Homo sapiens: one gene and its partners. The protein of the gene in region 2 purifies or fractionates together with the protein of the main gene of each other region. This does not show direct contact. Each region holds a gene or a part of one and is shown on either strand. Other genes may lie near its edges.

What was found. Proteins that work in one complex are often made in the same cells at the same time.
Region 1: the proteins of KISS1 (region 2) and VARS2 purify together in Homo sapiens (affinity purification with mass spectrometry; one large-scale study listed by BioGRID and IntAct). This does not show direct contact.
Region 3: the proteins of KISS1 (region 2) and KLHL26 purify together in Homo sapiens (affinity purification with mass spectrometry; one large-scale study listed by BioGRID and IntAct). This does not show direct contact.

Annotation. Positions count from the first base shown.
Region 1 is NC_000006.12:30,924,238-30,926,959, forward strand, and holds the end of VARS2 (valine--tRNA ligase, mitochondrial isoform 2 precursor), read left to right. Parts: intron 1-116; coding exon 117-323; intron 324-1,036; coding exon 1,037-1,148; intron 1,149-1,306; coding exon 1,307-1,482; intron 1,483-1,642; coding exon 1,643-1,771; intron 1,772-1,871; coding exon 1,872-1,973; 3' UTR 1,974-2,222; downstream 2,223-2,722. UniProt on the Homo sapiens protein: Catalyzes the attachment of valine to tRNA(Val) in a two-step reaction: valine is first activated by ATP to form Val-AMP and then transferred to the acceptor end of tRNA(Val).
Region 2 is NC_000001.11:204,193,692-204,197,776, reverse strand, and holds the start of KISS1 (metastasis-suppressor KiSS-1 preproprotein), read left to right. Parts: upstream 1-1,285; 5' UTR 1,286-1,401; intron 1,402-4,085.
Region 3 is NC_000019.10:18,640,028-18,643,527, reverse strand, and holds part of KLHL26 (kelch-like protein 26), read right to left. Parts: intron 1-3,500. UniProt on the Homo sapiens protein: May play a role in endo(sarco)plasmic reticulum (ER/SR) mitochondrial signaling. May be part of the ubiquitin-proteasome system (UPS) and affect ubiquitination and degradation of target substrates in cardiomyocytes.

The sequences.
Region 1 (2,722 bases), on a different chromosome or scaffold from region 2:
TCTGCCTGTCCCTCTCTCCCAGGACCCATGGCCTGCCCCACTGGCGGGTAGCAGTGGCTGTAGGGAGGAGGGCTGTGGCCCTGGACCTGTCCTCTGACCATTGGCTTCCTCTCCAGGAGGCTGTGAAGCCCGTGCTGTGGCACTCGCCCCGCCCCCTGGGGCCCCCTCAGGTCCTGTTCTCCTGCGCTGACCTCGGCCTCCGCCTCCTGGCCCCACTGATGCCCTTCCTGGCTGAAGAGCTCTGGCAGAGGCTGCCCCCCAGGCCTGGTTGCCCCCCTGCCCCCAGCATCTCGGTTGCCCCCTACCCCAGCGCCTGCAGCTTGGTGAGTCCCAAGCACCTTGGAGTGGGTCTGTGGGTGAATGGGGGGGAGCACCTTCTGAAGGGGTTTGCTGCAGGGGGCTCATCTGCAGGAATGGTTCGTACTTTACTGTGGAGCCCTGGGGAAGATGGATTGTTCCTGCAGGGTTGCTGCGATGACCCTAGGGTCTTGAGGGACAGTATTAGCGTAGTGCTCAAGAGCAGGACTCTGTTGCTAGACTGCTATTTTTGAGCTGTGTGATCGAGCCTCAGTTTCCCGCATGTTTAAACTAGGAACAGTAATAGTATATGTTATGGTTGTGATGAGGGTTGGATAAGTTAGTAATAGGGTGTCCCCAAAATCTCAGTGCAGCTTTAATAACTTCAGAAGGATAAATGCTATGAACTCACCCAAAAATTATTTTAAAATTTAACTATTTAAATTTATACTTATTTGGTTTTGAGTTTTGACTAATTCATTTTAAATTCTAATTTATTTTTGGTTGGCCATTTCAATCACAGCAACTAAACAGGCATCAAACACTGATCATCTAAAACCTCTTAAATGACGCCTCACTTTTTGTCATGTTCCTTGAGATAGTGGATTTTCTGTGGTGCTGAGGACAGATCTCATTGCCCTAAGGAGATGGGGTGGATGGGTCGAGAAGAGAGCCAGCAGGGTTGGTACTGAGTCTCCCAGGAGCCCCTTTGCCAATTCTGGGTCCCCCCCATTGCCAGGAGCACTGGCGCCAGCCAGAGCTGGAGCGGCGCTTCTCCCGGGTCCAAGAGGTCGTGCAGGTGCTAAGGGCTCTCCGAGCCACGTACCAGCTCACCAAAGCCCGGCCCCGAGGTGAGGCAAGGCGGGTCCTGGGCTCGGATCCCTGCAGGAAAAGGGGGCTGGTGGGGAAAAGAGCAGAGCCTGAAGGGCCAACCCCCCCGTTAGGAGGTGCAGGGTAGGAAGGGAGGCAGGAGCTGAGGCCTTGCCCCTGACAGTTTCTTTCTTTCCAGTGCTGCTGCAGAGCTCAGAGCCTGGGGACCAGGGCCTCTTCGAGGCCTTCTTGGAGCCCCTGGGCACCCTGGGCTACTGTGGGGCTGTGGGCCTGTTACCCCCAGGCGCAGCAGCTCCCTCCGGCTGGGCCCAGGCTCCACTCAGTGACACGGCTCAAGTCTACATGGAGCTGCAGGTGACCAGAGGGGATGGGGAGGGTTAGGGCAGGCTTGGGAAGCATGCTGGGAGGAAGGGAGGGGCTGGGCTCTATAAAGTAGGGGAAGGGACCTTCTAATGGAGGATGGAGGCCTGGCAGCAGGCGGATGTCTGAGCCTTTTCTCCCTGTTCTTCCCCAGGGCCTGGTGGACCCGCAGATCCAGCTACCTCTGTTAGCCGCCCGAAGGTACAAGTTGCAGAAGCAGCTTGACAGCCTCACAGCCAGGACCCCATCAGAAGGGGAGGCAGGGACTCAGAGGCAACAAAAGGTAAGGCTGAGGGAGGCCCCCAGAAGGCTCCACCCCTGAGGGAATGTGGGCCAGGAGGGGCCTCATTCCTGGATCCTCACCTCCTTTTCTCCTCGTCCAGCTTTCTTCCCTCCAGCTGGAATTGTCAAAACTGGACAAGGCAGCCTCTCACCTCCGGCAGCTGATGGATGAGCCTCCAGCCCCAGGGAGCCCGGAGCTCTAACTCATCATCCCCATCAGTTTTCCTCCCTCTCAGACCTGTCTTTGAGGACAAACAGATTTGTCAGCTGTCAGGGTGCAGTGGGACGTCAGAGACTATGTGGTCCATCGCCTTCATTGTGTAAATGAGGACACAGACTGGCTTGGTCGCAGTGACTGTGGTGTCCTTGAGATGCTCACATTACTGCCCGGCCTGCCTCCCACCTGGAAGTCTGGGAATGAGGAGATTGAGATAAACTTTTGAAATCCCAAACATGTCTGTTTATGGCTCTTTGGTCCCCTTTGCTCCCAGTGGTGACTTTTGTGCTTCTGAGTTGTCCCCTGAGAGCTTGGTCTGGGAAAAGAGGAGGAGGGGTCCTCGCTGGAGGAAGAGGAACTTTCTAGTCATGGGTAGGGTATGGGCACAGTGGTTCCGGTTCTACCTACTTTCTGGACTAACTGACAGTGCCCTGGCTTTTGCAGGCTCTTTCTCCTCCACTTCTCACTAAATGGAAGCTTCCCCGCTCCTTGGCTGTATCCCTAGAGGTGCTGAGAGAAGTAGGACTTCCTCCAGACCTGATGGGCTGCAGGCTGTGCTGCAGATGGTGTGCCCCCACCTTCTGTGCTCTGACACCTGAGTGCCCAGCCTCTGAGTTACACATTCACAGCACAGCCAGCCACCTTACCCACGCCAAACACCATCTCATCTCCATGGAATTCAAGGGCCTGGCCCTTCCACGCCCAGAGTACATTCTGTCCAGCAGCTCTGAGTAG
Region 2 (4,085 bases):
CAGCGAAGTTTTGGTCTATGAGGGTCAGTGCTGTCCTCATAGGCTATCATTTCTGTCCTGGTGTTTAACAGCCCTAATGGGTGTGATAATAATATGTTTGCAATCCCCTGTTAACAGTAAGCATCAGACAAGTGAGGGGTGCTAACCTGCAGACTGCCGGCATGCTTCTCCAGCATTAGGGGACGACCAGGTTGAGCTTGTGCTGGGAGAGCGTCCTGTCTGAGGGTAGAGACATAGCCCCTGCCTTCAGAGACTCCCAGCCTGATAGAAGAAACAGTCTCTGCCCTGGAGAGCCCCTTGTCCAAGGGTATAGAGAGTTATTGCAGGCTCAAGAAAGAGACAAAAGTCACTTGCGATGCATGCAGTTAGCAAATATCTATTGAGGGCCCTCTCTGTATGTGCCCAGCAATGGAGTGGGTGCCAAGGGTACAGGGGGAAGGGGGCCTGTCCCTGTCCTCAAAGTGCTGTACCTGAGCAGTCACAAAATAGTATGGTGGTGGGTGCCACGAGACAAGAAGGTGGGGCCCCCAAGCAGGCTGTCTGGATGTGCTGCCACCTGGAAGTCCCCTCTCTGCACCCCTGGCACTTCCCAGGTGCATCCACCTTCTGCAGCTCCCATTTCGTCCTCCTTGCTCATAGCTGGTTGCTTACCTAAGGTCTCTGACCAGTCCATAGCCTATTCACCTCAAAACCCTGCGCTGAGGAAGCGCTCAGTGACCGAGGAAAGAAGGGAAGCAGGAAGGAAGGAAAAAGGAGAGAATCTCTGCCACCACCACCCTGTGCCAGTCACAGGGCGCAGTCTAGGAGCCGCCTGGAGACCCACGCTGACCTGGCTTTCCCTCAGAGCTGGGAGCATGGGATGTGAGGAGCCCCTGGGTCAGCCTGTGCCCTTCTCCTCCCCTCTTCCTGTCGTTTTCTACGTCTAATTCAGACTAGGTGTGTCTGTGGCTCTTCGGAGAGGAAACAAGACATTTCACACTGACACTTCTCCCCACCCTCCTCAGATAGCCCATTTCCACGTTGTTTGGGGGCAGGATGGGTCCTCTGGGTGGGAAGAGGGTGTGGAGGATGGAAAGAGCCGGTAAGAAGGAGAAAGTCCCGCCTCGGAGGGCTCGGGTGGGGCAGGAGGAGAGGCTGCCTCCAGTCACAGAGCCCGGAGGCAGAGGCCTCCCAAGGTGCCATGCTCTTCAGGAGGGTCTGAGGAGGAGGGAGGGGCGGCAGAGTGGGCCTGTGCTTGGAGACGTCACCCCGGGCTTTATAAAAGGGATGTGATCAGGGAGCTGGGGAGAACTCTTGAGACCGGGAGCCCAGCTGCCCACCCTCTGGACATTCACCCAGCCAGGTGGTCTCGTCACCTCAGAGGCTCCGCCAGACTCCTGCCCAGGCCAGGACTGAGGCAAGGTAGGCACACTGCAGTGTCCACCCCTGGGAAGGGGGTCTGCCCTGACCTGGGGATGCTCTGGAGGGGAGCAGGGAATCCGTTCTAAGACGGACAGATGCATCCAGGCAGGCAAAGGCAGGGGAGGGAGACACTGATCTTTCCTGTTTACCAGCCTGGCCAGATTATCCTGGGATGCCTGGGCGAATACACTGAGTCGCACTTTATTTGTGAAGCTAACACTCTGGGGATCCCGAGGGCTCTCTCTTGCTGTGGAAGGAATACATGCAATAAATAAATGCTGTGGCTGGAATTAGAGACCACAGACACGCTTGGATGGACCTAGGGAACCGCTCGGGGCTCTTGAGAGCAATGGGGCTCCTCTGAGCAGCTCCCCCCAAATTACAGATGGCAAATACAAGCCTAACCAAGGGCATCTACCTACCCACTAAGAACTAGGGGCCACTTCACTCCAGAAGCTTTCCAACCATGCCTGGAATTTCTGTCACTCACTGGATACAAACCCCCCAGGGTGGAGGGAACCACAAAAATTGTCTACAGCAGGTCGGCCACTCATGGCCCCTTTCCAAATAATTCATTTCTACCATATATGTTAAGTGCCCCGATGGGCTGGGCAGTGGAATCTGTGTGTGTGTGTGTGTGTGTGTGTGTGTGTGTGTGTGATATGTGTGTATGGGTGTATGTGTGTATATGTGTGTGATGTGTGTGCGCATGTGTGGTGTATGTGGTGTATGTGTGTGTATGATGTACGTGTATGGGTGTATGTGTGTATATGTGTGTGGCGTGTGTGTGCATCTGTGGTGTGTAGTGTATGTGTACGGGTGTATGGGTATATATCTGTGTGGTGTGTGTGCATGTGTGGTATGTGTGGTGTATGTGTGTGTATGATGTGTATGTATGGATGTGTGTATGTGTGTGTGTATGTTGTGTGTATGGGTGTATGTGTGTATATGTGTGTGTGGTGTGTGTGCGTGTGTGGTGTGTGTGCATGATGTGTGTGTATAGGTGTATGTGTGTATATGTGTGTGGTGTGTATGCGTGTGTGGTGTGTGTGGCATATGTGTATGTGTGTGTATGGGTGTATGTGTGTGGTGTGTGTGGTGTATGTGTGTGTGTATGATGTGTGTGTATGGGTGTATGCGTGTATATGTGTATGGGTGTGTGCGTATATATGTGTGTGGTGTGTGTGTGCATGTGTGGTGTGTGTGGTGTATGTGTGTGGTGTGGGGGGTGTGTGTGTGTGTGCTGGGGTCAGGCAGAGTTGTCCCATGGCGCACATGGTAAGTGCCATCCACAGTGGGAAGGAGGCACTCGGGGGGAAAGGGGAGCCGGAAGAAAGAGTACCACCCTCCAACCACACAAGCCCACTGCCCTCCTTCCTGGCCCACCACCCTGCTTCCGCACAGAGAACCGGAAATGTACATCTACCCACATTCCTGTCTGGCTCAGACCCCTCCAGGATGAAGCCCCTGCAGGGCCCCTTCCCCCAGCCTTGTCACTAGCTTTCTCTCCATGCAAAGCTCCATCCTCTTGTCTAGCTAGAGGGCCTGAAGTTCCCTTTGCACTCAGCCCCTGCCCTTGCTTCAGCGCCTTAGCACCGTCCTGGGAACACTTTCTGTAAACCTTTCAGCGATTCATGCTCAGAAACAGCTCAAGTGCCACCCCCTGCCAAAAATCTGCCTGGTCCTCCTAGGTTGGGTTCCCCTGGACTCCCATATCCCCTTGTGGATTCACATGCATCCGGTATGTCATTTACAGTGTTATTTTGAAATGATCTGCTGATGAGTTAATTTCTCATGCTAGACTTGAGATCTTGGGGGCAGCAACTCTGTCTTAGCACACCTGTGCACCCCTAGCACCTAGCACAGCACCAGCACCTAGTCGGTGCTCAAGGAGTGATTTCCAAATCAACCCAGACCCTGTGCATCCACGGTCTGAAATGCTTTTACACTATTCTCTCCAATGGATTAATCCTACCTCTACTCCGTGCCCCAGCCCTGGGCCTTAAGGTAAATGCAGAAAGCTGTGGTCTGGGTTTCAACTTGTCACAGTATCAAAGTCTGCAAGGATAAGTAAACTTCTGAGCAGGTGGCTGGTGGCCAATCTGATCCAGGGTTCTTATTTTATAGATGGACCAATGAGGTCTGGAGATGGGGGTGACTTGCTCACATTTCACAGGGAATGAAAGCAGAGCTGGGGCAAGATTCAAGTACTCCTCATTCCATTTCAGGGTTCTTACTCTTTACTCCATGCCTGAGTCCTGCAGGGAGCTGGGTGAGGAATGGGGGGTGGGGGTGTGGGTGCAAGAGCAGAGAGATGCATGGGCCTGAGCCACCATTAGGAGCTGATGGGCACAAAAGGTTCTCATCCCCCAGTCCCCCTTCCCCAGGGAGAGCGGCTCCAGGCTGTGGGTCAGGCCAGGACAATCTTTTTGCTCAGCTGGCATTGCTCCTGCCTCCCCAGCCTTTTGTCTTTAATCGTGTTTGTTGGACAGTCTCAAAGTGTCTGGTGACTTTTTCAAAAAGAAATTAGATTTGGGAGCCGGAAGAGGTAGGGTGGGGTATGTGGGGTGTCGGTGGGGCAGAGCAAGGCAGGGTGATGGGAAATGGTGTGAGGATCAGGGCACACGGCTCCCATCTCAGCAGCCAAAATGATGAGGCCAATTCAATTCATAGCCTCTTAGAGT
Region 3 (3,500 bases), on a different chromosome or scaffold from region 2:
TAGCCTGGACAACAAGAGCAAAACTCTATCTCAAAAAAAAATAATAATAAGACCCCATCTCTATAAAATAATATATATATTTTTTAAGACAGTCTGGTTCTCTCGCCCAGGTGGGAGCGCAGTGGAGCGATCTCAGCTCACTGCAACCTCTGCCTCCCGGGTTCAAGTGATTCTCTTGCCTCAGCCTCCCGAGTAGCTGGGATTACAGGCACGTGCCACCAATCCTGGCTAATTTTTGTATTTTTAGTAGAGAAGCGGTTTCACCATGTTGGCTAGGCTGGTCTCAAACTCCTGACCTCAAGTGATCTGCCCACCTCGGCCTCCCAAAGTCCTAGGATTACAGGCATGAGCCACCGCGCCCGGCCCAAAACAATTTTTAAAAATTAGTCAGGTGTGGGCTAGGCACAGTGGCTCACGCCTGTAATCCCAACACTTTGGGAGGCCAAGGCAGGTGGATCACGAGGTCAGGAGATCAAGACCACCCTGGCCAACATGGTGAAACCCCGTCTCTATTAAAAATACAAAAATTATTTGGGCGTGGTGGCGTGCACTGGTAATCCCAGCTACTCAGGAGGCTGAGGCAGGAGAATCGCTTAAACCCAGGAGGTGGAGGTTGCAGTGAGTCCAGATTGTGCCACTGCACTCTAGCCTGGGCGACAGAATGAGACAATGTCTCAAAAAAAAAAAAATTAGGTGTGTTAGTAGATGCCTGTAGTCCCAGCTACTCGGGAGGCTGAAGCAGAAGGATAGCTTGAGCCCAGGAGGTCAAGAAGGCTGCAGGTAGCTACGACACTGCATGCCAGCATGGGCGACAGAGTGAGACTCTTCCTCAAACCAAACCAAACAAACAAACAAAAAACCACAAGCCGGGCGCAGTGGCTCACGCCTGTAATCCCAGCACTTTGGGAGGCCCAGGCAGGCAGATCACCTGAGGTCAGGAGTTCCAGACCAGCCTGGCCAACATGGAGAAACCCCACCTCTACTAAAAATACAAAATTAGCCAGGCTTGGTGGCAGGCGCCCGTAATCCCAGCTACTCGGGAGGCTGAGGTAAGAGAATCAGTTGCTTGAGCCCGGGAGGTGGAGGTTGCAGTGACCATGCCACTGCACTCCAGCCTGGGCAACAAAAGCGAAACTCCATCTCAAACACACACACACACACACACACACACACACACACACACACACACTAGGTGACTAGCAAAAGTGTCCTGGGGACTACTTGAGCTTGCATGGTCAGGCAGGTGGCTCTGAGGGGCCAGAACCTTGGAGAGTGGAAGGATGAAGAGGAAGGAGACGTGGGCAGGTTGAGGCGAGGAGGTGGGTCGTGCTCCAGGCCTGGCTGTCCCATTTGCAATAAATGAAGGAACAGACGAACAATGCTACAAAGACTCAATGTCTCAAAATGACTTTTGGGAGAATGTCTTGTACCAATCTCCCTCAAAATATGATCCATTTTCTGCATGCTCCATCTTGCCACATTAGGGGTTCTCCCCACACTAGCACCTGAGGCATGAGATGCCCCTATCAGTTGCTCCAAACAGTGATTTTTCACTAGGATGGAGGATAGGGGAGAATGACAAAGATGTCTTTTAAGAAAGAGGGCCGGGCATGGTGGCTCACGCCGTAATCCCAGCACTTTGGGAGGCTGAGGCGGGCAGATCACAAGGTCAAGAGATCGAGACCAGCCTGACCAACATGGAGAAACCCCGTCTCTACTAAAAATACAAAAATTAGCCGGGTGTGGTGGCACACGCCTGTAATCCCAGCTACTCGGGAGGCTGGGGCAGGAGAATTGCTTGAACCTGGGAGGCAGAGGTTGCAGTGAGCCAAGATCACGCCACTGCACTCTAGCCTGGGCAACAGAGCAAGCCTCCATCTCAAAAAAAAAAAAAAGAAAAAAGAAAAAGAGCCGGGTGTGGTGGCTCATGCCTCTAATCCCAGCACTTTGGGAGCCTGAGGCAGGCAGATCACCTGAGGTCAGGAGTTTGAGACCAGTCTAGCCAACATGGTGAAACCCCGTCTCCACTAAAAATACAAAAATTAGCCGGGTGTGGTAGCATGCACCTGTAATCCCAGCTACTCGGGAGGCTGAGACATGAAAATCGCTTGAACCCAAGAGGTGGAGGTTACAATGAGCTAGGATCGCACCACTGCACTCCAGCCTGGGCAACAAAGCGAGACTCAGTCTTAAAAAAAAAAAAAAAAAAAAGGCAACCCAACTTAAAAATGGCCCAAACATTTGAAAAGACACGTTACCAAAGAGATGAATAGCTAAGAAGCTCATGAAAAACTGTCCAACATCATTAGTTATTAGAGAAATGCAAATTAAAACCAAAATAAGACTGGGAACAGTGGTGTGCACACCTGTAATCCCACTTATTCCAGAGGCTGAGGCCCGAAGATTGCTTGAACCCAGGAGTTCCAGGGTGCAGTGAGCTAGGATCGCACCATCGCACTCCAGCCTGGGCGACAGAGTGAGACCTCATCTCACAAATAAATAAATAAATAAAAACACCAAATGAAGACACCAGCACACACCTATAAGAATGGCTAAAACTAAGGACTGGCCATACCAGGTGTTAGTGAGGATGAGGAGGAGCTGGAACTCTTGAACATTGCTGGTGGGGATGCAAAATGGTACAGCCACTTTGGGAACAAGCTTGGCAGTTTCCTAAAAATTAAAACATGGCCAGTCTCAGTGGCTCACACCTGTAATCCCAGCACTTTGGGAGGCCGAAGCAGGCGGATCCCCTGAGGTCAGGAGTTCAAGACCAGTCTGGCCAACATGGCAAAACCCCGTCTCTACTAAAAATACAAAAATTAGCTGAGTGTGGTGGCGCATCCTTACAATCCCAGCTACTCAGGAGGCTGAAGCAGGAGAATCACTTGAACCCAGGAGACAGAGGTTGCAGTGAACAACTGCTGGGCAACAGAGAGAGACTCCATCTCAAAAAAAAAAAAAAAAAAAAAAAAATTAAAACATAGCCAGGCGTAGTGGCTCACACCTGTAATCCCAGCACTTTGGGAGGCAGAGGTGGGAAGATTGCTTGAGCCCTGGAATTCAAGACCAGCCTGGGCAACATGGCAAGACTTTGTCTCAACAAAAGCACAGAAAAAATAGCTGGGTGTGGTGGCATACGCCCTTGTAGTACCTACCAGCTACTTGGAAGGCTGAGGTGGGAGGATCACCTGAGCCCAAGGAGGTAGAGGCTACAGTAAGCCGTGATTGCACCACTGCACTTCAGCCTGGGCAACAGAGTGAGACCCTGTCTCAAAAAAAAAGAAATTTAAACACATCTACCATATGAACTAGTCATTCTACTCTTAAGTATTTACCCAAGAGGATGAAAATATACGTCCACACAGAGACACATATCCAGATGTTCACAGCAACTTTATTTGCAGTTGTCAAAATGGAAACAACCCAACAGTCCATCAACCAGTTAATGGATAAACAAACTGTGTCCGTCCATACGAGATTGTATGGACGGACACAGT